3 separate regions of the Homo sapiens genome follow, and all the other regions are linked to region 3. Evidence: fine-mapped expression QTL. A gene starts in region 3. Each other region holds a variant in brackets. All regions are shown on one strand. Distances are between the middles of the regions. Region 1 overlaps ENSA (endosulfine alpha). Region 2 overlaps RPRD2 (regulation of nuclear pre-mRNA domain containing 2). Region 3 holds the start of C1orf54 (chromosome 1 open reading frame 54).

What was found.
Region 1: its variant is fine-mapped to the expression of C1orf54 in prefrontal cortex (ROSMAP, PIP 0.95).
Region 2: its variant is fine-mapped to the expression of C1orf54 in whole blood (INTERVAL, PIP above 0.99).

What each region holds. Positions count from the first base shown.
Region 1 is chr1:150,612,802-150,623,749 of GRCh38, reverse strand. ENSA (endosulfine alpha) reads left to right here. Exons shown (of 4, transcript NM_004436.4): 4 at 891-1,625. The coding sequence ends at 906. Among named protein-coding and RNA genes, the nearest start is that of ENSA, 11 kb to the left of the region's middle. RefSeq lists a silencer at 803-1,097. The variant C/G (reference allele first, on the strand shown) is at 4,803.
Region 2 is chr1:150,388,308-150,399,255 of GRCh38, reverse strand. The region is part of intron 1 of RPRD2 (regulation of nuclear pre-mRNA domain containing 2); the gene reads right to left. Among named protein-coding and RNA genes, the nearest start is that of RPRD2, 30 kb to the right of the region's middle. The variant G/TG (reference allele first, on the strand shown) is at 5,802.
Region 3 is chr1:150,268,136-150,278,019 of GRCh38, reverse strand. It overlaps C1orf54 (chromosome 1 open reading frame 54), which reads right to left and starts at 5,230. Exons shown (of 6, transcript NM_024579.4): 1 at 5,157-5,230; 2 at 3,850-3,933; 3 at 2,221-2,279; 4 at 1,388-1,498. The coding sequence starts at 5,202. APH1A (aph-1A gamma-secretase subunit) reads left to right here and starts at 9,004. Exons shown (of 7, transcript NM_001077628.3): 1 at 9,004-9,322. The coding sequence starts at 9,210. It overlaps LOC124904414, which reads left to right. Exons shown (of 2, transcript XM_047438213.1): 2 at 8,691-8,964. The coding sequence ends at 8,964. RefSeq lists enhancers at 8,552-8,601, 8,662-8,711, 8,293-8,904 and a silencer at 8,765-9,222.

The DNA.
Region 1 (10,948 bases), 350 kb before region 3:
GTCATCCTTAAAGTCCATCTGGGAAGGGGAAAATGCTGAACACCATTGTATAGTTTCTTCAACTGTCCCAGCCATGTTGTACATAGATATGTCATGTTATTATATATATAAATATATATATAATTTTGTACGTTTTCTTCATCTCCGATCTTCTCAAATTCTGTACTTTTTTTCTTTTCTGTCTGAGCTGCCTTCTCTATCATTCAGCTTGAGTCCTCAAGACTACTGGTCACAATGAGTCTGATTTTTAGGAAGGAATAGGAGGAGCAGGGAAATCAGAAAAACTGTTGGTCTCACTCTGTCTCTCTACCTGGTCATCTTCAAGGCTAAGAAAACAAACAAGCTACATTCTGTATTTGCCAGTTTCCACAGCATGAAGTACATAGCTTCCTTAGCAAGGAGTGGTCATTCCAAAATCCAAATGCAAATTGCTTTGATTAAACCTAGATTATTAAATCCATTCAGAACAGCATGTGTGTGGTCTGGTTCTGGCCTCCACACAGTCACCACCTCATCTCTGTGCTACCTCAGTCTTTGCAAGTAGCTGTGGCCATGCCTCTGAAACAGCCTGCTCTGAGCCAGGCAGCTTACCCACCTGGAAACCTCCAGTTATTTTGATCTTATCTAAAGAATTATTTTTCTATGTTTGTTATCCATGGATATCCCAGAAAGGCAGATAACGTTGTTTCGTGGATAGGAAAAGACTGAAATTCTATTTTTTGATTTTTTTTGCAACTCCCTTATGGATAGGATTGAGACATGCCAGGTAGCCTAATGGTTGTTAAATGTGGAGGAATCATGGGGTAGAGACTGGGTTGGAGTTCAGGGTTTTTTTCCCCTATTACTTGACAGTGTTGTTTTTTTTTTTTTTCTTCTGTGTTCGTCCGCAGTGGCCAAGTTGAATGATGCTGCCCGGGGCTCTGCCAGATCCTGAGACGCTTCCCCTCCCTGCCCCACCCGGGTCCTGTGCTGGCTCCTGCCCCTTCCTGCTTTTGCAGCCAGGGGTCAGGAGGTGGCTCGGGTGTGGGCTGGAGAGGCAGAAGCCCTTTCCTGTTGGTGTCCCAGCACATGGAGCCCCTTGGGCTGAGCACCAAGACCTTGAACCTTTTTTGTTTTACCTTTTTTCCAAATAACAGTTGGGAGAAATATCAATGAAATTCTGGGGGTGGGGGTGGGGTTGAAAGGGTGGGGTGGGAGATATGGAGGAGTATGAATTAGGGCTTGGAGTTGGTAAAAACATTCCTGACTATCCTTCTTAACCACGTGGCTGATGTGGGGTAGGTATGAGGGGAAGGAAGTGGAGTAGCCTAATGAAAAGGGGTTCTAGTTGAGCTCTGTAGATAAATGCCTTGTTTCAGTGTGGTTGGAGACCTGGTGTCAGATAAAAGAAACTCCATCCGCACAGACAGATGCAAACAGCTCCTCTAGTTCTGCAGAGCTAGTTGAGAACTCAACATTAATCATTTTAAAAAGTACTGTCCTTGAAATAGATTTGCTGTGGGAAGAAGGGCAGTGAGTGTGGGAGAAAGGAGCCGTGAGCGTGGGGAACCCCACAGAGCCCAAAGGACTTTTTCAGTATTCGAAATAAACAAAACAAAAACCCATGAAAAAACCCAACCCAGAAATATTCTGAAGCAGTTGGTGTGTTTTATTGGGGTTTGGGAGGGGGAAGAAAACAATACTGAAGACATTGTTAATGTGAGATGCGGCTGAGTTCCCCAATACCATCACTTAGGAAAGGGAGCAGGAATGTTGGCATAAACCTTGCCCATCCCTTTGTTTCTGTAACCAATGTAGAAGGTGCATCAACCTCAGTTTGTGGCTCACAAAATGAGGCATTTAAGATATTTGATCTAAATGGTTTCTTGACACCTAAGCCTAGTCCAGGTTTAGCAGAAAAGGAGGCCCAGTCTCCTTTTCCCTCTGTCTTCCATTCCTTTTCAAGTTCCCATGTTTGTGAGGGAGAAATGTGACAAACCAAAAGAAATATATTATTTCTTTGTAATAAGCCAAAAGAAACTCAAGTCTTTCTGCTGGTGGCCAGCAGGAGGCAGAGTGATTTCTTTCCTCATGATGTGCCAATCTGCATTGCTGGAAACCTGCTACTGAAAGAAGTTAAAAGCTGCCTGTGAATGTAACGTACAAAAGAAAGGTTACCAAAGGAGAAAAAACTCCAGCGGGTGTACGGTGGCTCACGCCTATAATTCCAGCACTTTGGGAGGCCAAGGTGGGTGGATCACTTGAGGTCAGGAGTTTGAGACCAGCCTAGCCAACATGGTGAAACCCCATCTCTACTAAAAATACAAAAATTAGCCGGGCGTGGCGGCACATGCCTATAATCCCACTTACTTGGGAGGCTGAGGTAGGAGAATCGCTTGAACCCAGGAGGCAGAGTTTGCAGTGAGCCGAGATTGTGCCATTGCACTCCAGCCTGGGCGACAGAGCGAGACTCCATCTAAAAAAAATAAATGAATAAAATAAAACAAGTACAAATTTAAACTAGAGACACAAGTTAATGGTGTTTATTGTGGTGGGGTTAGTGAGCCATCCCATGATTTCCTCCTGAGTATGTTATCCCTGGTTTGTGTTTGCCAGCTGGGGAATGAGGTGAGGTCTATGAGGCTGAATGTGGGATCATTCAATTTCTTTCTTTCTTTCTTTTTTTTTTTTTTTTTAGAGGCAGGATCTTGCTCAGTCACCCAGAATGGAGTGCAGGGTGCAAACACTCACTGTAGCCTCAACCTCCTGGGCTCAAGTAATCTTCCCATCTCAGCCTCCCAAGTAGCTGGGACTACAAGCACACACCACCACACCTGGCTAATTATTTTTTGTAGAGATGAGGATTCACCATGTTGTCCAGGTGAGTCTCAGAACACAGGCTTAAGCACTCTTCCCATCTCAGCCTCCCAAAGTGCTGGGATTACAGGCATAAGCCACTGCGCCTGGCTGAGAATATATTTTCATCCTTTCTTTTGTAGAGAGGATCTCGTTTTGTTGTGTAGGCTGCTCCTGAACTCCTGGCCTCAAGCAGTCTTTCCACCTCAGCCTCCCAAAGTGCAGGGATTACAGGTGTGAACCACTACACCCAGCAGTTAGTGCAATTTCATTTTAATACAAGTGAGGAAATTAAGGTATAGAGATAAGTTACTTGTAAAGTAGAAAAGCTAGTTAGCTGAAGAGCTTGAGTTAGTATCTTAGGCTTTTATATTATTTCTTCCCACTATTCCTGGCTTCCCTGGTCCTCAATTTTAATTTGTGGCCTTAAGAAGCCTGGGGTGCCAAAAATGTTTGGGGCTATCTGTATTTCATGTTACTCCTTAGCCTTTTTTTTTTCCTTTTAGTTCTTCACCACTGCACACTTGGCAGGATGTATCCCATTTTAAAACTTGACAGTCCATCTCCTTCACTCCCATACTGTAGGGCTAGGCAAGCAAAGCAAACTGATTCTGCAATGCTTCTAATAGTTATTCCTGCTCATTATTTTAGCTAGATGTATTCTAAAGTCTTTATCCCAAAGAGTTGAATCAAAGGTTCTTCCACTCCTCCAACCTGATTGTGCTGACAAGCCACTAAGCTGAGCCATCTAATATACAGGGTGGCAGGGATGAAGTCACCGTTACTGTCCAACAGCTTTTATTTTAAGCTGGTGTGGGCTGGGCATATCAAAGACAGGCAAAGAAAAATAACTTGGAGAGTTGCCATTGAGGATATATCCACAGTGAGCCAACAGCACCCACACAAGCAGCCCTCGTCTGTATAATGCCCTCTACTGGGTCTTGAGGGAGATTAAAAAGAAAGATCTCTTCCATCCTGGGGAACCTGAGATATGACAGCAGCACACAAATACAGGCAGATTTATAGTTCTAAGCAGAGTTCCAGTAGCTAAGCTAAGGGAAGGAGAGTCAGGAGATAAGCTGTTAGCTGAATTTTATTAAAGACAGATGACTTCACTAGTAAAGATAAAGTGGGACCTCCCGTGGTTGGGCTGCAATATTTTAAGTCCCAAGTGACTGCTGAATACTCGCTTTGCAGTTGGAAAAATAAGCTGTTTTTGGCCAGATAAACAGTGTAAGAGGTCATCTCTGCTCTAGAGGAACATGTAACCTAATTGAGACACTTCTACATATAATGCAAGATAGCATATGGTTAGTCAAGTAGTAGAATTCTGAGAAGAGAAAATCTGACTGGACTCATTAGGTAAACATAAGTGGTGGAAATGGACATTTAACTGGGCCTTGAAAGGTGGGTAGTATTTAAACAGTGCAGTTACTTAATAAGTGTCCACAATATGCCTGGCATTGTGCTAAAATACAAGGTAAATTGTATGTGGCTGCCTCTTTCAAGGAGATTACATTGTAGTGGTGACCTACACATGAAGAAATCATATTACAGTGTTAAACTTACAGCAGTGGTGGTCTAGCTATACAGAGGAATAGGGACAAGTAATTAATTAATAATAGTTGCTTTTTTTTTTTTTTTTTTCTGAGACAGAGTCTCACTTCGTCACTGGAGTGTAGTGGTGTGATCTTGGCTCACTGGAACCTCCACCTCTGGGTTCAAGTGATTCTGCCTCACCCTACGGAGTAGCTGGGATTACAGGCATGTGCCACCATGCCCTGCTAATTTTTGTATTTTTGGTAGAGATGGTGTATCACCATGTTGGCCAGGCCAGTCTTGAACTCCTCACCTCAAGTGATCCACCCACCTCAGCCTCCCAAAGTGCTGGGATTGCAGGCTTGAGCCACTGCTCCTGGCCTGTTGGTTTTTTTTTCTTTTTAAGACAGAGTCTCACTCTTGTCGCC[C/G]AGGCTGGAGTGCAGTAGTGAGATCTCAACTCACTGCAACCTCTGCCTCCTGGGTTCAAGCTATTCTCCTGCCTCAGCCACCTGAGTAGCTGGGATTACAGGTGACTGCCACCACACCTGGCTAATTTTTGTACTTTTAGTAGAGACGGGGTTTCGCCATGTTGCCCTGGCTGGTCTTGAACTCCTGACCTCAGGTGATCCACCTGCCTCAGCCTCCCAAAGTGCTAGGATTACAGATGTGAGCCACCGCGCCTGGCTGTGGTTTTTTGTTTTTGTTTTTTGTTTTGTTTTGTTTTGTTTTTGAGGCAAGGTCTTGCTCTGTTGCCCAAGCTGGAGTGCAGTGGTGTGATCTCAGCTCACTGCAACCTCCACCTTTTGTGTTCAAGCGATTCTCGTGCCTCAGCCTACCAAGTAGCTGGGACTATAGCCATGCACCACCATGCCCGGCTAATTTTTGTATTTTTAGTAGAGACGGGGTTTTGCCATGTTGGCCAGGCTGGTCTTGAACTCCTGACCTCGAGTGATCCACCCGCCTCAACCTCCCAAAGTGCTGGGATTACAGGCATGAGCCACCGCACCTGGCCTTTTTTTTTTTTTTTTTTTTTTTTGATACAGGGTCTCTGTCCCCCAGGCTGGAATGCTGGAATGCAGTGGTGTAATCATGGCTCACTACAGTCTCAGCTCCTCACTACGAGGTCAGGAGATTGAGACCATCCTGGCTAACACGGTGAAACCCCGTCTCTACTAAAGATACAAAAAATTAGCCGGGCGTGGTTGCAGGCGCCTGTAGTCCCAGCTACTCGGGAGGCTGAGGCAGGAGAATGGCCTGAACCCAGGAGGCGAAGCTTGCAATGAGCTGAGATCGCGCCACTGCACTCCAGCCTGGGCGACAGCGAGACTCCGTCTCAAAAAAAAAAAAAAAAAAGTTCGAGACCAGCCTGGCCAACATGGTGAAACCCCCGTCTCTACTAAAAATACAAAAATTAGCCAGGCCTGGTGGCGGGTACCTGTAATCCCAGATACTCCGCAAGCTAAGGCAGGAGAATCGCTTGAACCCAGGAGGCGGAGGTTTCAGTGAGCCGAGATCAAGCTACAGCACTTTAGCCTGGGCAATAAGAGTGAAACTTCATCTTGAAAAAAATAAAATTTTAAAATCCTGATTTTTTTTTATAACTCTGAACAAGTTTCTTTAACTCTCTGCCTCAATTTACTTACTTGCATAATAGTAACGACATGGTACCTACCATGAGGGTGGTTGTGATGATTAAGCAAGATAAGGCTTGTAAAGGCCTTACTTCAGGGACTACAAAAGTGCGTAAAACATGGTTCCAGCTGGGCGTGATGGCTCGCGTCTGTAATCTCAGCACTTTGGGAGGCCAAGGCGGGCGGATGGCCTGATGTCAGGAGTTTGAGACCAGCCTGACCAATGTGGTGAAACCCTGTCTGTACTAAAAATACAAAATTAGCCAGATGTGGTGGTGTATGCCTGCAATTCCAGCTACTTGGGAGGCTGAGGCACGAGAATTGCTTGAACCCGGGAGGCGGAGGTTGCAGTGAGCCGAGATTGCGTCACTGTACTCCAGCCTGGGCAACAAGAGCAAAACTCTGTCTCCAAAAAAAAAATAAAACATGGTTCCTGCCCTCAAGGAGTTTACAGTATACAGAGGGATATAATAAAAACAGACAGATAAGGAATTAGAAGGGATTGGTGCTAAGACAGGGACAAACACAAAATGCTCTAGAAGCACAGAATAGGGGAACCTACCCAATTTGAGGAGGTGGAGGAAGGACAGGAAAATCCTGTCACAGAAAATAGCTTCTAAGCTGAGATCTGATGAAGTAGAAGAATTTATTCAGGTAAAGGGGTTAGATCGGGAAAGGGGTCTTCTGGGTAGAAAGAACTATGTAAAGTGATTCAGAGTTATTACATTCTGCAAACTGGGAATAATTCACAGTAACTGTAGTAAGCATCCAAGGGGCAAGGCCAAGCTGGGTGTAGTGGCAGGTGCCTGTAATCCCAGTTACTCAAGAGGCTGAGACAGGAGAATCCTTGAATCCGGGAGGCGGAGGTTGCAGTGGGCCGAGTTAGCACCATTGCACTCCAGCCTGGGCGACAGAGTGAGACTCCGTCTCAAAAAATAATAAATGAAGTAACAATGGTGAAGTTTGAAGTAACTCAGGTGAAGTAACACCTAAGTGGAAATTCCATACTCCACTCAGTAAACCATTATCATGGGCTAGTTGAATTGTAAGACACTTTATTATGTTGCTACAATATTTCAGGTGAGAGATGATTAGGAACCAAGGAAGGTAATGACAATGGGTATAAAGAAGAGTAGACAGGGCTGGGCATGGTGGCTCACGCCTGTAATCCCAGCACTTTGGGAGACCGAGATGGGGGGGATCACCTGAGGTTGGGAATTCAAGACCAGCCTGGCCAACATGGTGAAACCCCATCTCTACCAAAAATAGTAAAAATTAACCGGGCGTGGTGGCGGGTGCCTGTAATCCCAGCTACTCAGGAGGCTGAGACAGGAGAATCACTTAACCCAGGAGGTGGAGGTTGCAGTGAGCCAAGATCGCACCATTGCACTCCAGCCTGGGCGACAAGAGCAAGACTCCATCTCAAGAAAAAACTCAAACACCAAATACAAAAGAAAAAGGACTGGAGTATCCATTTGATTTGGCAGTTAGTAACCTTTTTGAGACCAATTTCAGTGGATTTGTAGAGGTGAAATCTGGCTTATAGAACTAAGTAATATGGAGAGGTTTTGTGGTTGTTTTAGGATGGGAATAATTCAGGCATATTTATTGAAAGAGTGAAAGGAATAAGTAAAAGCTGGAGCTCAGTAGAGAATGATAATAACCAAAAAGCAGGGTTCTGAAGAGAAAGGAGGTGAAATGAGCACAGGTGGATGTGGTTTAGTTACATGGTCTACTTCTGCAGACGTTTGCTGAGCACTTACCGTGTGCCAGCCACTCTACTAGGTGGTGGGGTTAGTCTACTTGGGAAGCCAACTGAGTGAGAAAGTGGTCTCAAGTAGGACTATATATGCCTCATCCTGCTGGAGACTCAAGGCGAAAATATAACAGTAAACTCCCAGCTGATTGTTTTTGACTGGGGCTAAGTAATTTATAGGAGTCGTTGTCTGACAGCTTTAGTCAGACTTGTAAAGTAGGATGTTAGAGAGGTGGGAGTGTAAAAAGTATAGCCATAAAAGGACATAGAAGAGAGGAGGGGCGGAGCCCAATGACTCAGGCGCCTATAATCCCGACAGTTTGGGAGGCTGAGGCAGGAGGATTGCTTGAGTCCAGGAGTTCCAGACCAGCCTGGACAACATGGTAAGAACTCATCTGTACAAAAAATAAAAGCCAGGCATGGTGGCACACGCCTATAGTCCCAGCTACTTGGGACGGTGAGGTAGGAAGATCTCGAGCCCAGGACGAGACTGCAGTGCACAATTATCGTGCTTGTGACTAGCCACTGCACTCCAGCCTGGGCAACATAACCAAACCCCATCTCTTAAAAAAGGTGGGGAGGGGTGGTTAGGAAGCAAGCAATGTTGAGGTTCTAACAGATTGGTACCATGAACATGTAATGGTACCAATCCATATCTTTGTGCTATTTTCTCTAGAAGCACCTAGCTCCCTGGGTACAAGAGCAGGGACGACATTATTGTTTAGATCCTGAGTCAGGATTTGTAGACAGATAAAGTATACTAAGAAGGAAGCAAGGGGATGAAAGTGCTGGTGAAAGATTAAAGAATCTCTCTGATTATAGCTAGATAAGAAAATAGGCTAAGGAAGTTGTGATAAACTGGTCAAGCCAGGCGCGGTGGCCCACACCTGTAATCCTAGCACTTTGGGAGGCTGGGGTGGGTGGATCATGAGGTCAGGTCAGGAGTTTGAGACCAGCCTGGCCAACATAGTGAAACTCCGTCTCTACTAAAAATACAAAAAATTAGCTGGGTGTGGTGGCGTGCGCCTGTAATCCCAGCTACCAGGGAGGCTGAGGCAGGAGAATCTCTTGAACCCGGGAGGCAGAGGTTGCAGTGAGGCAAGATTGCGCCATTGCACTCCAGCCTGGGCAACGAGCAAAACCCTGTCTCAAAAAAAAAAAAAAAAAAAAAAAAAAAAAAAAAAACCTCTGGTCAAGAGAATTCTTTGTTTCTTTCTCTATTATTTATTTATTTTTAAGAGAACTCTTTATAAGGTCAAAGAGCAGATGATTTAGAAGCAGAAATGATTAACCTGGAAGTTCAAAACATTGTAGCAAGAATATAAAATTTTAGATTGGAGCCAGGTGGTGGCTCATGCCTGTAATCCCAGCACTTTGGGAGGGGAAGATGGCTTGTGCCCAGGAGTTCGAGACCACCCTGGGCAACAAAATGAGACCCCCATCTCTACAAAAAAATTAAAAAATTAGCCATGCATGATGGCATGCACCTGTGGCCCCAGCTACGTGGGAGGCTGAGGCTGGAGGATAGCCTGAGTCCAGAAGGTGAAGGCTGCAGTGAGCTGTGTTTGCACCACTGCACTCCAGCCTGGGCAACAGAATGAGACTCTGTGTATAAATAAATAAAACTAAGAGAGTTCTCACATCGAGCTGTGAAGGTAGTTTGCTAATTTATCTGGGGTTTTGCTGTTATCTTTTGTTAAAAATCAACTTGCTGGGGTGAGGTGGCTCACATCTGTAATGCCATCACTTTGGGAGGCTGAAGGGGGAGGATCACTTGAGTACAGGAGTTTGAGACCAGCCTGGGCAATGTAAGGAGACCCTGTCTGAAAAATTAAAAAAAAATAGCCAGGCGTGTTGTCATGTGCCTGTAGTTCCAGCAATGGCAGGCTGAGGTGGGAGCATCGATTGGGCACAGGAGGTTGAGGCTGCAGTGAGCTGTGATTGCACTGCTGCACTCCAGCCTGGGCAACAGAGCAAGACCCTGTCTCAATAAATAAAATAAAGTAGCATCAAATTGATACATATCCTAGAGTAGTTATCTTTTTTTCCTCTGAGCTCCAACAAGAAACAACAGTATTTACATTTTTAACTGGAGACAAAACTCTGCATAGGAGAAATTCAAACATCAGCAGACATATGAGGGCGTTTTTTGGCAGAGGCAACTTACTGTCAATAAAGTCTCACCCCTGGTGAACGCCACCTGCTCACACGTACAAAAGGAAAGTCATTTAGTGATCATGAATCCTGGTTTGACGTTAAGGTCCATGTCTGAAGTGTCGTTTATGATTAGGGAAGTCTGAGTCATCCTTAGGCTTCCTCTATTGCATTTGAGTCATTTCCTTTTTTACAGACCCAAACTGTACAGCCCAGGATATTTCTTAAATGTCCAAAAGTACAGAGTTTTGGAACTAAAGGGACATTCGAGATCATTGAGTTCAGTGTACTCGTTTTACAAATGGTGAAACTAAGGCCAAGAGGAGCATGCCTTTGCCTGATTGCACAGCCTCTGTGGGGCAGTTTTGCCTATACCAAGAAGGGTATAGGAAAATACCCTATTCTCTAGAACCAGCTGATTTCACAGCAAATTTGGATTCTGGCTTGAATTTATTTTTGTCAGAAGTAAACTAAAAATACTTGGTCTGAAAGTCTGAGAGGGACTCAGGGCCCAGGGGAACAAGCAGGCATCTCTGGTATATCCCCCTCAAATAGTTTTTTGTTTGTTTGTTTTAGACAGAGTGTTGCTCTTGTTTCCCAGGCTGGAGAGCAATGGCGCAATCTCGGCTCACTGCAACCTCCACCTCCTAGATTCAAGCGATTCTCCTGCCGCAGCCTCCCAGGTAGCCATCACACCCAGCTAATTTTTTGTATTTTTAGTAGAGATGGGGTTTCATCATGTTGGCCAGGCTGGTCTCGAACTCCTGATCTCAGGTGATCCACCCACCTTGGCCTCCCAAAGTGTTGGGATTACAGGCGTGAGCCACCATGCCCGGCCCCCCTCAAATGGTTTTATCTGTCACACTGGTGCTCCTGCAATGGACAAAGGAGACGTTTCCTGTAGGACCAGCATCTCTTTACTCAGGTTTTTCAATCTTGGAACTGCTGACATTTTGGGCCAAGTAATTCTTTGTTGCAGGGACTGTCCTGTGCATTTCAGGATGTTTAACAGCATCTTTGTCCTCTACCCATT
Region 2 (10,948 bases), 120 kb before region 3:
AAGGTGGGAGGATTGCTTGAGCCCAGGAGTTTGAGACCAGCCTAGGCAACATAGGAAGACCTTTCTCTATAAAGAAAAATTAAAAGATAACCGAGGTGAGGAGGCTTGCGTCTGTGATCCCAGCTACTCCAAAGGATGGGGTGGGAGGATCCCTAGAGCCTAGGTGGTTGAGGCTGCAGTGAGCTATATGGCACCACTGCACTCCAGCCTGGGTAACCAAGTGGGACCCTTTCTCAAAAAATAAACTAATTAAAATAAATAAAACTTCTGTAAGAAAATATAGAAGAAATTCTTTATGACTTTGAATTAAAGGATTTCTTATATGTAACGAAAATATCATCTGTTAACATTTTTAAAATAAACTGGACTTCATCAAAATTAAGAAATTATTGCTTTTTTAAAAATGCTGTTAAGGCCGGGTGTGGTGTCTCATGCCTGTAACCACAGCACTTTGGGAGGCTGAGGAGGGTGGATCACTTGAGGTCAGGAGTTCGAGACCAGCCTGGCCGACATGGTGAAACCCGGTTGCTACAAAAATACAAAAATTAGCTAGGCATGGTGGTGCGCACCTGTAATCCCAGCTACTCCGGAGGCTGAAGGAGGAGAATGGCTTAAACCCAGGAGGCGGAGATTGTAGTGAGCCGAGTTCACACCACTGCACTGCAGTCTGGGTGACAGAGTGAGACTCTGTCAGAAAAAAGGGAAAGGGAAAGGGAAAGGAAGGAAGGAAAGAAGGAAGGAAATAAAATAAAATAAAATAGGCCAGGCACGGTGGCTCACGCCTGTAATCCCAGCACTTTGGGAGGCCAAGGTGGGCAGATCACGAGGTCAGGAGATCGAGACCATCCTGGCTAACACAGTGAAACCCCGTCTCTACTAAAAATACAAAAAATTAGCCAGGCGTGGTGGCAGGCACCTGTAGTCCCAGCTACTTGGGAGGCTGAGGCAGGAGAATGGCGTGAACCTGGGAGGCAGAGCTTGCAGTGAGCCGAGATCGCGCCACTGCACTCCAGCCTGGGCAATAGAGCGAGACTCCGTCTCAAAAAAAATAAAATAAAATAAAATAAATATAAAAACACAAAAATTAGCCAGGCATAGTGGCAGGTGCCTGTAATTCCAGCTACTGCGGGGTGGGGGTGGGGTGGGGTGCTGAGGCAGGAGAATGGCTTGAACCTGGGAGACAGAGGTTGCTGTGAGACAAGATCATGCCACTGCACTCCAGCCTGGGCAACACAGTGAGACCCTGCCTCAAAATAAATAAATAAATACAATTAAAGATGCTGTTAAGAAATGTTTGTGTGTTGCTCAAGGCCCATCTCTACTAAAAACAGAAACAAATTAGCTGGGCATGGTGGTGGATGCCTGTAATTCCAGCTACTCCGGAGGCTGACTGAGGCAGGAGAATCGCTTGAATCCGGGAAGCAGAAGCTGCAGTGAGCGGAGATGGCGCCACTACACTCCAGCCTGGGCAACAGAGCAAGACTCTGTCTCAATAAATAAATAAATAAGAAATGTTTATGGTGGCTTTATTCATAATTACCAAGAACAAAACAACCCAAATGTCCTTCAACAACTGTGAAACATCCTTAAAATGGAATACTATTTAACAACAAAAAGAAACAAAATTTTGCTATGTATGTTTTACTACAATTGCATCATGCTAAATGAAAGAAGTCAGACTCAAAAGGTTACATCACTCCATTTACATGACATTCTGGAAGAGTCAAAACTATAAGGTCAAATAGTGGGTCACAGACGAAAGGGGTTCAATAAAAATGGGGAAGAATTTGGGGAGTAACAGAACTTATATAAGTTCTATATGTTAATTGTGGTGGCTACACAATTATAAATTCATCAAAATTTATAGAACTGTACATTTAAAGGGTAAACTTTGGTGTATGTAAATCATAACACAATAAACCTGACTCCCCACCACCCAAAAAAAGCAAAACACCAACAGAATCAATAAGACTTGCTGTTGTGGCCGGGTGCAGTGGCTGACGCCTGTAATCCCAGCACTTCCAGAGGCCGAGGCAGGTGGATCATGTGAGGTCAGGAGTTTGAGATCAGCCTAACCAACATGGTGAAACCCCCTCTCTACTATAAATACAAAAATTAACTGAAGGTGGTGGCAGGTGCCTGTGATCCCAGCTACTCAGGAGACTGAGGTAGGAGAATTGCTTGAATCTGGGAGGCAGAGGCTGCAGTGAACTGAGATCATGCCACTGCACTCCAGCCTGGGCGACAGAGCAAGACTCTGTCTCAAAAATAAAAATAAAGAAAGAAAATTTTAATTTTAATAATGCTGAATTTATATATTTATTATGGTAATCATTATTTTTATTATGGCTAGCATAGTGTGTCTCGTTTGAGAATTCTTTCCCTACATTATTCCGTTCCATTGGTCTATGTGCCTATTTTTATGCCAGTACCATGCTGTTTTGGTGACTATGACCTTAGAGTATAGTTTGAAATCAGGTAATGTGATGCCTCCAGATTTGTTTTGCTTAGTGTTGCATTGGCTATGTGGGGTCTTTTTTGGTTCCATATGAATTTTAGGGTTGTCTTTTCTAATTCTGTAAAGGATGATGGTGGTACCAACTGATCTTTGACAAAGCAAACAAGATAAAGTGGGGAAAGGACACCCTATTCAACAAATGATGCTGGGATAATTGGCAAGCCACATGTAGAAGAATGAAACTGGATCCTCATCTCTTACCTTAAACAAAATAAATTAACTCAACATGGATCAAGGACATAAATCTAGAACCTCAAACTATAAAATTCTAGAAGATAACAATGGAAAAACCCTTCTAGACATTGGCTTAGGCAACTATTTCATGACCAAGAACCCAAAGGCAAATGTAATAAAAACAAAGATATAAAGCTGAAACTTAATTAAACTAAAGAGCTTTTGAAGAGCAAAAGGAACAGTCAGCAAGAGTAAACAGACAATCCACAGAGTGGGAGAAAATCTTCACAATCTATACGTCTAACAAATGATTAATTTCCAGAATCTATAATAAACTCAAACAAATTACCAAAAAAAAAAAAAAACACACAGACGATCCCATCAAAAAGTGAGTTAAGGACATGAATACACGATTTTCAAAAGAAGGCATACAAATGTCAAACAAACATATGAAAAAATGCTCACCATCCCTAATGATCAGGGAAATGCAAATCAAAACCACAATGTGATACCACCTGACTCCTCCAAGAGTGGCCATGATCAAAAAATCAAAAATTAATAGAAGTTGGCATGGATGCAGTGAAAAGGGAACACTTCTACACTGCTGGTGGGAATGTAAACTAGTACAACCACTATGGAAAACAGTGTGGAGATTCCTTAAGGAACTAAAAGTAGAACTACCATGTGATCCAGCAATCCCAATACTGAGTATCTACCCAGAGGAAAAGAAGTCATTATATGAAAAAGATACTTGCGGCCGGACGCGGTGGCTCACGCCTGTAATCCCAGCACTTTGGGAGGCGGAGGCAGGCAGATCACGAGGTCAGGAGTTCGAGACCAGCCTGGCCAACATGGTGAAACCCCGTCTCTACTAAAAATACAAAAACTAGCCAGGCGTGGTGGCATGTGCCTGTAATCCCAGCTACTTGGGAGGCTGAGCAGCAGAACTGCTTGAACACGGAGGCAGTGGTTGCAATGAGCCAAGATGGTGCCACTGCACTCCAGCTTAGGTGACAGAGCAAGACTCCATCTCAAAAAAAAAAAAAAAAAGATATTTGCATACACATGTCTGTAGCAGCACAATTTGCAATTGCAAAAACGTGAAATCAACCCAAATGCCCATCAGTCAATGGGTAAAGAAACTGTGGTGCTGTGATGTGTATACACACACACACACACACACACACACACACACACAATGGAATACTACTCAGCCATGAAAAGGAATGAATTAATTGCATTAGCAGCGACCTGGATGAGATTGGAGGCTACTATTCTAAGTGAAGTAATTCAGGAATGGAAAACCAAACATCATATGTTCTCACTCATATGTGGGAGCTAAGCTATGAGGATGCAAAGGCATAAGGAAGACACAGTGGACTTTGGGGACTCAGGAGGAAAGAGTGGGAAGGGGGTGAGGGATAAAAGACCACAAATTGGGTTCAGTGTATACTGCTCAGGGGATGAGTGCACCAAAATCTCACAAATCACCATTAAAGAACTTACTCATATAACCAAATACCACCTGTTTCCCAATAACCTATGGAAATAAAAAAATTTAATTTAAAAAAAAGAATTATTTCCCTATACTATGGTCATAAAGATGTTCTTTATTTTCTGATAAAACCTTTGTTTTGTTAGCCTTTTGTATTTGCCTTTATCCTATGCAGAAGCAATTTTTGTGGCCAGGCGCTGTGGCTCACGCCTGTAATCCCAACACTTTGGGAGGCCGAGGAAACAGATTGCTTGAGCTCTGGAGTTTGAGACCAGCCTGGGCAACATGGTGATACCTGGTCTCTACAAAAAATACAAAAATTAGCCAGGCATGGTGGTGTGCACCACCTACTCTGGAGGCTGAGGTGGAGAATTGCTTGAACCCGGGAGGCTGAGGTTGCAGTGAGCCGAGATCATGCCACTGCACTCCAGCCTGGGCGACAGAGCAAGACTTCGTCTCAAAACAAAAACAAAACAAAAAAAAACTCCACAAAAAGGTTGAAAGTTCAGTAAACATTCCTATATTTTACCTACATTTAGCAATCGTTAATATCTTGCCGCATCAGCTCTATCTCTCTATATATACAACATTTAGTTCTCTTTTGCCAAACCATCTTAAAGTAGATTGTAGAGAGCAATATAATTTATCCCTAAATATTTCAGAAGGAACATTCTCTCATACAATCATAGCAGCATTATATCTTAAAAAAACTTAATTCAGGCCTGGTGCAGTGGTTCACGCCTGTAAACCCAGCACTTTGGGAGGCTGAGGCGGGCGGATCACCCGAGGTAGGGAGTTCAAGAACAGCCTGACTAACATGAAGAAACCCTGTCTCTACCAAAAATACAAAATTAGCCAGGCGTGGTGGTGCATGCCTGTAATGCCAGCTACTAAGGAGGCTGAGTCAGGAGAATCGCTTGAACCCAGGAGGCGGAGGTTGCAGTGAGCCGAGATCGCGCCATTGCACTCCAGCCTGGGCAACTTTTAAGAGTGAAATTCCGTCTCAAAAGAAAAGAGAAGAAAACAACAACAACAACAAAAAACATTAATTCAGCAACACCAGCCGATATAAAGCGCATCATCAAATTTTCCCAACAATCACCAGACTGTTTATAGTTGGGGTTTTTTTTTATATACTGTTATTTTTACCTTTGTTTTTTTCACTCCAAGAACCAAAGTTCTTATGTTTGATTTTCATTATCTCTCAATGTAGGAGAGTCCCTTTACCTCTCCCTATTCTTCATGACTTTGATGATCCAAGCCAGATGTCCTGCAGAACATCCCACATTTCAGGATTCATTCATTTTCTCAAGAGTAGGTTCAGGTTAAACATTTTTGGCAAGAATACAACTTTGTTGGCATTGTATACCACCCACTACCTTCCGTAAGAGACATATAATTTTCATGCCATCCCACTACTATTGATGCCAAATTCTCTCTGCATTATAAATGCATGTTTTTCCCTCTACAATAAAGTAATAATCTATAATTATCAATTTGTAACTCATAATCTATGGGGTGATACATTCACACTGTAGGAATACTATATACTGCTCCTCAACAGTCTTTCACCCAATGTTTTTTTTATTGGTTTTTTTTTTTTTTTTTTTTTTT[G/TG]AGACAGGGTCTCTCTGTTGCCCAGGCTAGAGTGCAGTGGCAGATCACACTTCACTGCAGCCTCAACCTCCTGGACTCAATCGATCCATCCACCTCAGCCTCCTAAATAGCTGGGACTGTAGGCATGTACCATGCCCAGCTAATGTTTCTGTAGATGCGATTTTGCCATGTTGCCCAGGCTGGTCTTGAACTTCTGGGCTCAAGCGATCTGCCTGCCTTACCCTCCTGAAATGCTGTGATTTACATGTGTGAGCCACCGCACCCAGCCCTCTTTAATAATGTTTTGGTTTGGGTCTTAACGTCTTTATTCATGCAGCTACTATAGCGGTATGTTTTTTATTGTTTTTGGTTAGTAACTGCCTTTTAACTTTTCTATTTTAGATATGTCTCTCTATATAGCCACATTTTTAAAAAAAATCTGAACTGATCATCCCTATCTTTTAACTGCTAAAATTATTCTTTTATGTTTAACTGTGATTGATATATTTGAATTTGTTTCTATCATTTTATGTTGTGCTTTTATTTGCCCTGCCTTTTTCTATGCTTCATACTTCTTTATTCCCTTCATACCTCTGTACCTTTTGGGGAAGTTTTCTTTTCTTTGTTTTTTTTCTAGACAGGGTCTTGCTCTACTGCCCAGGCTGGAGTGCATGGCGAAATCATAGCTCACAGAAATCTGCAACTCCTGGGATCAAGCAATCCTCCCTCCTCAGCCTTTCCAGTAACTGGGACTACGGGTACTTGTTACCAGGCCCAGCTATTTTTTATTTAGTAGAGACGAAGTCTTGCTATGTATGTTGCCCAGGCTAGTCTTGAACTCCTGGCTTCACGCGATAGTCCTGCCAAAGCGCTGAGACTACAGGGATGAGCCATGGCCAAGAAATTTATTTTTTAAATTGTTCTCCCCCTTCTAGTGGCTGAAAGTTATACATTCTATTTTTACCCAATTTTTTTTGGAGTCTCACTGTGTCACCTAGGCTGTAGTGCAGTGGCGCGATCTCAGCTCACTGCAGCCTTCGCCTCCTGGGTTCCAGCAATTCTTCTGCCTCAGCCTACCCGATAACTGGGATTACAGGCATGTGCCACCACGCCCAGCTAATTTTTGTATTTTTCGTAGAGATGGGGTTTCACCATGTTGGCCAGACTGGCTGGAACTCCTGACCTCAGGTGATCCACCCATCTTGGCCTCCCAAGTGCTAGGATTACAGGCGTGAGCCACTGCACCCACCCCTAAATCACTCTATTCTTCTCTCTTTTCTTTTTTTTTTTGAGATGGAATCTTGCTCTGTCGCCCAGGCTGGAGTGTAGTGGTGCGATCCTGGCTCACTGCAACCTCCGCCTCCCGGTTCAAGCGATTCTCCCGAGTAGCTGGGACTACAGGTGCCTGCCACCATGCCTGGCTAATTTTTTTCAATTTTTAGTAGAGATGGGCCTTGAGCAACACACAAACATTTCTTAACAGCACACCACCATGCCCAGTCCACTCTCTTCTTGAACTACAATACCGAACAGAGATAGTTTTGTCCTTTTTTTTATTTTTATTTTTTGAGATGGAGTCTCATTCTGTTGCCCAGGCTGGAGTGCAGTGGTGCGATCTCGGCTCACTGCAACCTCTGCCTCCCAGGTTCAAGTGATTCTCCTGCCTCGGCCTCCCAAGTAGCTGGGATTACAGGTGCCCACCACCAGGCCCGGCTAATTTTTGTACTTTTAGTAAAGACAGTGTTTCGCCATGTTGGCCAGGCTGGTCTCAAACTCCTGACCTTAGGTGATCCGCCCGCCTCAGCCTCCCAGAGTGTTGGGATTACAGGCGTCAGCCACTGATCCCGGCCTGTCCTGGCTTTTTAAACTATACTAATTAAATATCTCATACAGGAAATGTTCATTCAGATTTACTCTTATGGTTACCAATTTACTTGCTTAGCACTGCATTTTATCTCTTAGATTTTTTTCTGGGATTATTTTCCTTTCCCTGAAGTATATGTCCTTTTAAAGGTCATTAATGGGCCAGTGTGGTGGCTCACACCTATAATCCCAGCACTTTGTGAGGCCAAAGCAGGAGGATCACTTGAGCCCAGGAGTTTGAGATAAGCCTGGGCAACACATGAGACCCTTATCTCTACAAAAATAAATAAATGAATTAAATAAAATAAAGGTCATTAGGTGAAGATCTGTTGGTTTCTAGCTTTTGTCTTTATGGAAATGTCTTTATTTTGCCCTTGTTCTTAAAACTTAGTTTTGCTAGGTAGACAATTCTAATTTGATGGCTGTTTTCTCTCTGCACTTTGAATATTTTATTCCAATGTCCTCTTGCTTCCATAGTTATCAATCTGTCATTCCTTTGTAAGTAATTAATAATCTATAATTATCAATTTGCATTTCATGATCTGTGCAGTGATAGTTTCATACTGTAAGAATACTGTATACTGAGGATAGAATACCCATCCTCTCCTACTGTTTTTAAGAGCTTCTCTTTGACTTTGATATTCTTCAGTTATCTATAAAGTATGTACAAGTAGATTTCTTTTTATTTAACCCCCTTCCTTCATATGCATATGGTCCCTATATATATTCACATATTTCATCAATTATTCCATTTTCTCCATTATTCCTTTAAAATATTGCCTGTTCTTAATTCTCTCCTTATAAGACTTCAATCACACATGTTAGACTCATTATGCTCTTCCTTTTAACTTATTTCTTAACATTACATTCTGGGAAATTACTTCAGATCTTTCAGTTCATGAATTCTCCCTTTGCCAATGGTCTTATCTGTTGTTCAAATCATCCACTAAGTTTTCAATTTCAACAGTTATACTTTTATTTCTAACATTTCTCTTTGGTTCTTTTTCAAATTTGCATAACTGTCTAAGAGTTGTTCCTTGATATATTTTAGATTCCTTTATTAATTTAAATATTTTATACATGGTTCTTTTTATTTATTTATTTATTTATTTTTTGAGACGGAGTCTCACTTGTCGCCCAGGCTGGAGTGTAACGGCGTGATCTCGGCTCACTGCAACTTCTGCCTCCCAGATTCAAGCGATTCTCCTGCCTCTGCCTCCCGAGCAGCAGGGAGACTACAGGCATGTGCCACCACGCCTGGCTAATTTTTTAATATTTTTAGTAGAGATGGAGTTTCACCATGTTGGCCAGGCTGGTCTTGGAACTCCTGACCTCAGGTGATCTGCCTGCCTCGGCCTCCCAAAGTGCTGGGATTACAGGCGTGAGCCACTGTGCCTGGTCAGTTGTTTTATATTTCATATCTTATTATTTCAATAGTTTAAGTCTTTGGGGTTTGTTTCTATTAAATCTCACCCACAGTTGTTTATTTCTTTGTGTTTGGCAATTCTTTTATTGTAAGCTTATATTTTGTTGAATTTTATCTATGGGAATTCTGAAAGCCTAATCAGAGAAAGCTTTTTCTAAAAATGTATTTGCATTTACTCTGGCAGAGAGTCAAGGGCAGTAGTGACCCAGGTTCAATTCAGCATCTTTCTCAAGGGGCTTTTCAACGTTTCTGGGGGCCCAAGGCTTAGTCTCCCATTAGTGCTGATGTGAGCGTTTGCCTTCAGGAAAACGTTGCCAGTCTTGTTTGCTCACAAGCTTACTCACTGCTCCTGTTTCAGCTGACTCTTTACTTCTGTGAATGAACAGACCCTTGGAAACCTCCCTTACTTTTTTAGTACACCCAGTAATGCATTAAAATGTGTGCTTGTTAATGTCTACACAGAATTCTGAAAAATTTACATAGATGCTGCCTCCTCAAGGAGGTAGACGGCATAACTCCCCTAAATTGTGGGCTGTGCAGTGACTTCTTCCCAAAGAGTACAATGTGTAAGAGGCTTCAAAAAAGAAGAAATCTGAAAAAAACTATCTCAGCCAGGTGATCAAGGTTAGTATCATTAGCGGTAAAACATGTTGATAGGATGGACACTCTTGATATCATGTGATGAAAATGGAACTTTACCTCTGTGGTCTTCCTCCAAAGAAACAATAACCCCAGCTAATCATTAAAACAAAAAACAACCACAAAAAAACAGACAAACCCACATTGAGGGACATTCTACAAAATATCTGACCAAATCTAGGGAAGCTTAAAAGAAAACTGTGGACACAGTGGCTCACACCTGTAATCCCAGCACTTTGCGAGGCCGAGGCAGGCAGATCGCTTGAGCTCAGGAGTTTGAGACAAGCCTGGGCAACATGGTGAAACCCTGTTGCTACAGAAATTACAAAAATTAGCCAGGTGTAGTGGTGCATACCTGTGGTGCACACCTATAGCCCCAGCTACTCGGGAGTCTGAGGTGGGAGGATTGCTTAGACCCGAGAGGTCGAGGCTGCAGTGAGCTGTGATTGTACCACTGCACACCAGCCTGGGCAACAGAGCAAGACTCTGTCTGCAGGGAAAAACAAAACAAAACAAAACAAAACTGTCAAAATCTAGAGGAGCCTAAAGAGATATAATAATTAAATGTGGAGTTATGGAGAAAACAACAGTAGGTAAAAACTAAGGCAATTCATAAAATATGGACTCTTAATAATTACATATTAGGCCAAGTGCAGTGGCTCACGCCTGTATCCTAGCACTTTGAGGGGCTGAGGCAGGCAGATCACGAGGTCAGGGGTTCAAGACCAGCCTGGCCAATATGGTGAAACCCCGCCTCTACTAAAAATACAAAAATTAGCTGGGTGTGGTGGTGTGTGCCTGTAGTCCCAGCTACTCAGGAGGCTGAGGCACAAGAATCGCTTGAACCCAGGAGGCGGAGGTTGCAAGATCGCGCCACTGCACTCCAGCCTGGGCGACAGAGTGAGACTCCATCTCAAAAAAAAAAAAAAAATTACATATCAATATTGATTCATTGGTTTTAATAAACGTAACATACTAATGTAAGATGTTAACAACAAGGGCAACAGGATGCAGGGTGTATATATGTGTGTGTGTGTGTGTGTGTGTGTGCGCGGGTATATATATATAGTGTATGTGTATATATGCATATACATATATATGTGTGTATACATGTATATATGTATATATATACATGTGTATATACACGTATATACATGTGTATACGTGTATATGTGTATACATGTATATATGTATATGTGTGTGTATATACACATGTATATACACATACATATATACACAC
Region 3 (9,884 bases):
GTTCAAGCGATTCTCCTGCCTCAGCCTCCCAGGTAGCTGGGATTACAGGCATGTGCCACCACACCCAGCTAATTCTGTATTTTTACTATAGACAGGGTTTCTCCATGTTGGTCAGGCTGGTCTCGAACTCCCGACTTCAGGTGATCAGCTCACTTCAGCCTCCCAAAGTGCTGAGATTACAGTCGTGAGCCACCACACCTGGCCGGTTTTTCTAAAATATCACTTTTCATCGTGTTTTTACCATAATGAAGAACTTACTAGGCTCCTTGTTGATTATGAGTCCAGACTTCAGCCTGACACCTGAGACTCTCTGAAATTTGCCCCTATGTTGCCACATGTGAAATTACTAAGCAAGTATTAGGAGCCTTGTAAATTTTATATTTTTCTTAATTCCCACTGTTCCCTTCCATATACCCTCTCCTTCAATCATACCCTATTTGCTAAACATATTATGCTTGTTCTATTCCCCCCTCCTGTGCAGCTCTTTCACTCTTTTTTTTTTTTTTTTTTTTTTTTTAGTATAGAGTCTCACTCTGTCGCCCAGGCTGGAGTAGAGTGGCGTGATCTCGGCTCACTGCAACCTCTGCCTCCCGGGTTCAAGTGATTCTCATGCCTCAGCTTCCCAAGTAGCTGGGATTACAGGCACGCACCACCACGCCTGGCTAACTTTTGTATTTTTAGTAGAGATGGGGTTTCCACCATGTTGGCCATTGAACTAGCCTTGAACTGCTGACCTCAAGTGATCCGACCACCTTGGCCTCCCCAAAGTGCTGGGATTACAGGCATAAGCCGCCATACCTGGCCTCTTTCACTCTTGGAATAACTATTCTTCCTCCTAATTGCTTCTGTCCTTCCATAACTACCCACCAATCAAAAGCTCATCTATTCTTCAGGGTGTATCTCAAGCACAAATGCCTCTTGAAAGCTTTTCAGACAACTCTAGCCTGTACTAATCTCTCTTCTTACATTGGCTAAAGCACTGCCAGTATCTTCTGCTTTCAAATTTATATATAATTTAACATCATAACATACCTTTTCATTTTGTTCTAAGTGTTTCGTAAACTTGAATTTTATAAATCCTTGAGGACAGTAACATAGATTTCTTTTTTATCAGCATCAGTTACCTTAGCAGCCTTAGGCATAGATTACATACCTATTGAATACTACTGAACTGAAATTTAACTGTACCATATCTTCCCAGTGTTCTGTAAACAGGGTTAGTATTAAATCTTAGTGAAACATGGCCAAGTTGAGATGAATACCTGCAATGAAGTACTAATTATTTGGTTCTCCCATCCACCAAAGCCTGGTATTCCAGCCCTCTATGTATTCCACGTCACTAGGGATGTCCTGTCTCCCCCCAGCCCCCAATCCCCAATCAACTCACAGGTTCCGTTGTTACTGGTTTCACAGTTACAGGCTTCGGATGGTCTGCACGTGCTGTTTCAAGACTAATGGTAGTCTCTATTGCTTCTGTTATGTCCTTATCCAACCTGTTCTACCCTCAGTAGGATTTGGGAAACACAGAGTTATCAGTTTTTCCATCCAACATCTTCATAGATTCTCTACTTAAAGTTCTCCCCTTCACCACCTCCACCCAGCCCAAAGACTTAAGCTCAGGGATTCCCCCCTACCCTATGCTTGCATAGATTTGTACCCATCTCATTCAAAAGTCCCTTGATGCCCCTCCTCAGTGTCTTAGCAAACTTACTGAGGACAATTTATAAAGTTCTGGCTTTTTTCTCCTCCCCAGATAGGTTAACAAATCTGTTTTGGGCCTACTACTTAGTTTCTCCTCATCAAACTCATTTTTATTCTTGTTAATCAGATACATTTCAACATTGCCCAGTTTCTTTTCTTTTCTTTTTTCTTTTTTTTTTGTAGATGAAGTCTGGATCTGTCACCCAGGCTGGAGTGCAGTGGAACGATCTTGGCTCACTGCGTCCTCCATCTCCCGGATTCAAGTGATTCTCCTACCTCAGCCTTCTGAGTAGCTGGGATTATAGGCATATGCTACCATGTCCAACTAATGTTTTTGTATTTTTAGTAGAGACGGGGTTTCACCATTTTGGCCAGGCTGGTCTCAAACTCTTGACCTCAAATGATCCACTCGCCTTGGCCTCCCAAAGTGCTGGGATTATAGGCATGAGCCACTGCGCCCGGCCAGTTTCTTTTTAATTGTTACTTATCCTAACCCTTTTAGATGTAGAGTTCACTCACCAGCCTGTCCTCTGACTCAAATATGGAGTAATCAATGGTGAAATCTGCACTAAAGTCATCTGCAGAGGAGAAAGAAAATCAGTAATAATTAAAGAAAAATGTAACTCTAGATCTGGAAATGAAAAGGGAAGAAATTACTCAGAATAGTTTAACTTAAGTTGTAACATTTATTGGTATAATCCAATTTTATTTAACTAATGTTAAAAATGACTGTGAATGTGTATGCATTTATATTTTCAATGTAGGTATCTAAAATAATTTACAAATTTGAAAAATTTTCAAGTTCTTCTTTTTTTAGAGTCAGGGTCTCACTGTGTTAACAGGCTGGAGTACAGTTGGTTCAATCATAGCTCACTGCCACCTCCAGCTCCTGAGCTCAAGTGATCCTCCTGCCTCAGCCTCCTGAGTAGCTGGGACTACAGCCATGTGCCACCATGCCCAGCTAATTAAAAAAAAAAAAATTTGGCCGGGCACGATGGCTCAAGCCTGTAATCCCAGCACTTTGGGAGGCTGAGGTGGGCAGATCACGAGATCAGGAGTTCAAGACCAGCGTGGCCAACATGGTGACACCTTGTCTCTACTAAAGATACAAAATTAGCCGGGCATGGTAGCACACGCCTGTAGTCCCAGCTACCTAGGAGGCTGAGGCAAGAGAATAGCTGGAAGCCGAGAGGCAGAGGTTGCAGTGAGCTGAGATTGTGCCACTGCACTCTAGCCTGGGTGACAGCATGAGATTTGGTCTCAAAAAAAAAAAATTTTTTTTTCTATAGAGACAAGGTCTTGCTATGATGTCCAGGGTGGTCTTGAACTCCTGGGCTCAAGCAATCCTCCCATCTAAAAATCACTATCTGGAAAAATAACATCATCATGAGTCTTTTTTTTTTTTTGTGACGTAGTCTCATTCTGTCGCCCAGGCTGGAGTGCAGTGGTGTGATCTCAGTTCACCACAACCTCTGCCTCCCAGGTTCAAGCGATTCTCCTGCCTCAGCCTCCTGAATAACTGGGACTACAGGCAGGTGCCACCATGCCCAGCTAATTTTTGTATTTTTAGTAGAGACAGGGTTTCACCATGTTGGCCAGGCTGGTCTCAAACTCCTGACCGCAGGTGATCCACCCACCTCAGCCTCCCAAAGTGCTGGGATTACAGGCATGAGTCACTGCGCCCAGCCCATCATAAATCTTTTTTCATTTTTTTTTTTTGAGATGGAGTCTTGCTCTGTCACCCAGGCTGGAGTGCAGTGGCACGATCTCAGCTCACTGCAACCTCTGCCTCCCGGGTTCATGCCATTCTCCTGCCTCAGCCTCCCAAGTAGCTGGGACTGCAGGCACCCGCCACCACACCCGGCTAATTTTTTGTATTTTTAGTAGAGACAGGGTTTCACTGTGTTAGCCAGGATGGTCTCGATCTCCTGACCTCGTGATCCGCCCGCCTCAGCCTCCCAAAGTGCTGGGATTACAGGTGTGAGCCACCACGCCCGGCCCCATCATGAGTCTTGATAGGTTTTGTTCATAGCCAGATTTTTCTCTGACCCCATTGCTCTGCTTCAAAGTGAAGAGCAAAGTCTCAGAACTAAATATCCTGAAGCCTCTCTCCAGTTGGCTAAGGGCAAGAGCCTTTCATGTACTCACCATAACTGGGGGTGACTGTATAATAATAGACCACCTGATAATATTCATCCTCTCCCAGTCTTTCTTCATCCTCATATTCTTGTCCTATGGGGACAAGGACTAGAGGTCAAGGGACATCTGGAACACCTTACTAACAAAAGGACACCTGGAGATGACCTCAGCGCTCCCAGCTTTCTTGCTCTTTCTTTCTTTTCTCTCTCTCTCTCTCTCCTCCAATAGTCATACTCCTTTCTTGCCTGTGCACCTCTACACCCCTCTCAGTCTTCTGGGATCCATATCTGTAATGAGGCCTGTTACTCCGTGCCCTTTCAATCCAGGAACTCCTAAAACAGAAAACAGTCCCCTTCACATACTATAAACCCAAAGGGAGAACCAGACCTAAAAAAGGTAGGAAAAGTAGAGACCAGGAATTAAAAACGCCAAGTCTTCTATTTAGTATGCTCCAGATCTTACTGTATTTGTGAGACATCTTTTCTTATCAGTATCTCTTACAAATAACTAACATACACCCTTAGGCTTTGGATTTGAGCTTTAGTTCCACCTTCACTGCTAACAGAATAACCCTGAACAATCCACTTAACATCCGCTTTCTTAAAATGAGTCAGCTGGACTAAAATGACCCATCTCTGTTAGTTTTTCTTCCCTTTCAGAACTAAAAATATGTGGCTTTGATATGACTGGATCAAGAACTCCAGGCCTCCTGCTAAACACTTCCCTGAGCTCCTTGAATGCTTTCCCTTCAACTCCAAGCTAATGACACAAGAATCTAGAGGAAAAGGAAACAATGAGACACACCTGGTAGACTGGGGAACAAAGGAGGGAAGGAGCCAAGCTACTCTTGGGACCCTGTCCCTGAAGACAGCCAGTTTTCCACTACCCTAAAGGTCACCCCACTTCTGTGTCTTTACTAATAGCAGGTTTTTTTCTCCAATTCTCTGGGAAAGGAGATACCCTAACTACTAGTTTCAGACTGTGACACCTTCCAATAATCCCTCCTTCACCCTTACTTTAGCCCCTGTCATCTTGTTCAACTTCCGTGGTGATGGAGAACTGAGCTCAGTGTTGCTAGGGCCTCCTTGTGTCTGGAGCTCCATCCTCCTTGTTTGACAGGACTCTGCTTTTTTCCCCCTTTCCTGGCTCTGCCTTCCAGATCTCCATTCTGCCCTCAACACCGGACCCCAGCACGATGAGAAAACTCTATCGCTCCCCACTGAAATGTACCTCTCACCCACTCCTCATTTTTTTTCTCCCACCCCATTTATGGTAGAAGACCTGGCACAAAAGCTCAGAGAGAGGAGTGGACTTACCCAGGATAAGTGGCACAGCAAAGATGGCTACAAAGAGGACATCCATTCTGGATTCTGCACTATTGCTGTGAAAGTAAAAAAGGAAATTACAGAGTTTCCCACCAAACTTACCCCGCCTCCCCTCCTCCTCCAAAGCAGGGAAGGAGCTGCAGCAACTCTTCTCCTCCCAGGGGGCAGAACTCCCCGCCTACTGGCTGACTGACTAGATCTCCGGTTACTGCCGGTCCCCAGCCAGAGCTGCCCAGATTGAGAGGCAAAAGGGGGTTTTGATGCAAACATGTTTCTTAAGCTCCCCCTGCCCTAGATTAGATCCATTCAAGACTCCCACTGTCACTACCAAAATAAAAATAAAAAATAAGCCTACCAAGAAGTTTCCCCTCTCCCGGCTTTCCTTCCTTCCTCCAAGGCCTCATAAAAAGTTCACCCTCCCTCTCACTGTCTCTGACTTACCATCACCACCCAGAGTTGCCTTTCTCTCTGAGGCTTCATCAGTCTCTTTTCGTCACAGTGGAAATGTTCTGAGGAAGGGGTGAGCATTTTTCTAGACTGAAAAGAATCCCTTTCTTCTGTCTGTCTGGAGCTATAGAGAATAGGAACAATATTTACCCATCATTGTCTGACTTAAAGCACCTGCTGCATGGCTTCAGCTAAAAGTCTCTCAGCCATGGTCAGTTATTTCCTTTCTGGTAACACTGACCTCACCTCACCTCTTTGTTTTTTTTTTGAGACAGAATCTTGCTTTGTCACCCAGGTTGGAGTGCAGTGGCGCGATCTCGGCTCACTGCAACCTCTGCCTCCCGGGTTCCAGTGATTCTCCTGCCTCAGCCTCCCTGGTAGCTGGGACTACAGGCGCGTGCCACCATGCCCAGCTAAGTTTTGTATTTTTAGTAGAGACGGGGTTTCACCATGTTGGCCCAGGCTGGTCTCGAACTCCTGACCTCAGATGATCCACCTGTCTTGGCCTCCCAAAGTACTGGGATTACAGGCATGAGCCACCGTGCCCGGCCTCACCTCATCTCTTTCTCAACTTCCAGGATGCAGGTTGGAAGAAGGGAGAAAGCAGATAGTCTCTTTCCCTGCTACAGGTGCCACACCTTCCCTCCCACATTCAGTCACTTGGTATGTTCCCTTCATTCCGTCCTACAGGTGTAGAGTTTTTATCCTTTCCTCTGCTTTTATGTTTCCCATGTTCATTCAATTCAGAAACCCTTAGCAACATACGTGCTAGGCACAGTGTGCTAGGCCTAGTGTGATAGGCAATTGAGAGCTTATAGGCAAGGGAATAAGAAAAGACAGTTTTGCTTTGTTCTTAAGGGAAGTTAATAAGTATCTGCTCAACATCTACTATGAGTCAGGCACTATGCAAGTGTCTGTGGAAACACCCATGAACAAGATAGGTTTACAGCCTCCTGTCAATGGTCAGAAGATGCTGTGGTAACAGCTCAATGGAGAGATGAAGCTGGCCACAGTGGCTCACGCCTGTAATCCCAGTACTTTGGGAGGCTTAGGCGGACAGATCACCTGAGGTCAGGAGATCAGCCTGGCCAACATGGTGAAACCTTGTCTCTACTAAAAATACAAAAATTAGCTGGGCTTGGTGGCAGGCGCCAGTAATCCCAGCTACTAGGGAGGCTGAAGCAGGAGAATCACTTGAACCTGGGAGGCAGAGGTTGCAGTGAGCCGAGATAGCACCACTGTACTCCAGTCTAGGCAACAGAGTGAGACTCCATCTCAAAAAAAAAAGACATGAGAATTGTCTCATTCCTATCCACCTTACTCTGCCTGCTGGGCTCAGAAGCAGGACATACTGGAGTCTTGAACACAGGTCATGATAACGCTACCCTCTTAATTTTTTTTTTTTTTTTTTTGAGACGGAGTCTCACTCTGTTGCCCAGGCTGGAGTGCAGTGGCACGATCTCGGCTCACTGCAAGCTCCGCCTCCTGGGTTCACGCCATTCTCCTGCCTCAGCCTCCTGAGTAGCTGGGACTACAGGCGCCCGCCACCACGCCTGGCTAATTTTTTGTATTTTTAGTAGAAACGGGGTTTCATCGTGTTAGCCAGGATGGTCTCGATCTCCTGACCTCGTGATCTGCCTGCCTCGACCTCCCAAAGTGCTGGGATTACAGGCGTGAGCCACTGCGCCCAGCTACCCTCTTAGTCTCATTAGGGAATAATTTGCCTGGTGACTTTCCATGTAAATATTTTCTTTCTTTTTTTTCAGAGACAGAGTCTTGCTCTGTCGCCCAGGTTGGAGTGCAGTGGTGGGATCTCAGCTCACTGTAACCTCCACCTCTCAGATTCAAGCTATTCTCGTGGCTCAGCCTCCTGAGTAGCTGGGACTACAGGTGCGCACCACCATGCCTGGCTAATTTTTTGTATTTTTAGTAGAGATGGGGTTTTACCACACTGGCCAGGCTAGTCTCAAACTCCTGACCTCAAGTGATCCAGCCGCCTTGGCCTCCGAAAGTGCTGGGATTACAGGCATGAGCCACTGTGACCAGCCTCCGTGTAAATCTATACAATCTATTCCTCAGCTCCTTTCCAGAATATCCTGGAAGACATGTAAAACATGTATGTGAGTGTGCACATATGGATTAAATAATAAATCACTTCCAGGAAGGAAAGGAAGTTTGGTTATCTTTAAACAATTTCTGTGGGGTTTTTTTTGGTACTTTGATTATGCTTTCAAAAACAATATTCCAGATTTCTTTCCTCTTTTCCATCCTCAGATTCCTTTGCCTAACATCTTCCCTAAGGACTAACCTCTCCCCATCCAAATGAGATTACAATACCCTCCTCTCCTACTTAACTTTCTTTTTCTTTTTTGAGACAGAACCTCACTCCGTTGCCCAGGCTGTAGTGCAGTAGCGCAATCTCAGCTCACTGCCACCTCTGCCTCTTGGGTTCAAGCTATATTTGCCCCTCAGCCTCCCAGGTAGCTGGGATTACAGGCGTGCGCCACCACATCTGGCTAATTTTTGTATTTTTAGTAGAGATGGGGTTTCGCCATGTTGGCCAGGCTGGTCTCAAACTCCTGGCCTCCCAAAGTGCTGGGATTACAGGGGTGAGCCACCGCGCTCAGCCTACTTTAACTTTCATTCACTCTAATATACAACCCCTCTCAGCCTCAGGAAAACGCACCACTGAGGTTCATTTTTCAGAAAATAAATAGAGGAAGTATGACATAAAAGGAATTTATGGCGGGGGTGGGGTGGGGGTGTCGTTTTCCTTCAACCCCATCGCTCTAATTGCTTTTAAACTCCCGGACTCTTTCAAAATGCCTTCCTAACATTTCTCTCCAGGCTCCTTTTGCTTCTCTCCGATTCTCTTGTCATTACAGATGAAGGCTTCATTAGCGATATACTGTATTCCATGTTTATTATACTAGTCTGTCCGAAGAGCTCCTACTTTTTAATGTAATCTTCATCTCTTAGGCAGCAGCTCTAGCCCATTTCCTCTCATTCAAGTAAGAACAATACCCGTCCCTATCTCCCTGCGCCCCATCCTGTGCTCTCTTTGTATTTGTCCCTTAGATTCAAACAGGATCTACCCCCTCTGCAGCCCTTCAAGAAGAGGTATGATTGCTACCACTTTTCCCCACAAAGTGACGAAAGGAAACAGCGACGGAAGCGCAACCGAACCCTGGAATTGGTGTCTCGACTGGTCCATTCCCGGCCCACCCCCATTAACCGGCTCGAGCCACTCCCAGGACGAAGTCAAGGCCTCGGAAGGCGACTACAACTCCCAGCAGGTCGAGCAGCTCCGCCCGCGCTGATTCTCCATTGGCCTTCCGGGGGTGGGGATTAGATGGGAGGTGGCCGTGGGGCTGCGGCCGGGATTTGTCCCCTCTTCGGCTTCCGTAGAGGAAGTGGCGCGGACCTTCATTTGGGGTTTCGGTTCCCCCCCTTCCCCTTCCCCGGGGTCTGGGGGTGACATTGCACCGCGCCCCTCGTGGGGTCGCGTTGCCACCCCACGCGGACTCCCCAGCTGGCGCGCCCCTCCCATTTGCCTGTCCTGGTCAGGCCCCCACCCCCCTTCCCACCTGACCAGCCATGGGGGCTGCGGTGTTTTTCGGCTGCACTTTCGTCGCGTTCGGCCCGGCCTTCGCGCTTTTCTTGATCACTGTGGCTGGGGACCCGCTTCGCGTTATCATCCTGGTCGCAGGGTGAGTAGAGGGCCCGGGAGACGCGGGAGAGCGTCGAAGAGAGAGGTGCGGAAGGGGCTGGAGGAACTGGGGCAAGCCTGGGAGCCTGAATTGGGGACGATAAGTCGGAGGTGAAGTTTGGGCGGAGGTGAGGGGTTGGGTCTGGGAGATTTGTCCTTTCCCGCAGTTGGTTTCCACCTTCCAAGGATCTCACAGATTCCTCCTATATTCCTCCCAGCGACGTCAGAGAAGGCCCAAGGCCGAGACTCGTGAGGGGGCTGTGCTGACCTAGGCAGGCCGAGTCAGGTGCCTTAGGGGAGGATCCAGGAACGGATACCTCGCCCTTCCGTGCTCGCACACTCTGGCTGTCATCGCTCTGAAGACTCTTTAATTAGATTTCTCCCCTTTCCAGTGCGTTCACTTTTCTACAGATGAGTCTCTTGGTGGAGACAGTTACCCTACCTGGTCCATGTCTCCCTAACCATCCGGAAGGCTAACTTCCACTTTTCAAGCAGCTTTGGCTGGTTTCCCTCCTTGATTTCTCTGGCTCCCACTACTATTGCTTGTCTCACTGCCCCTGTCT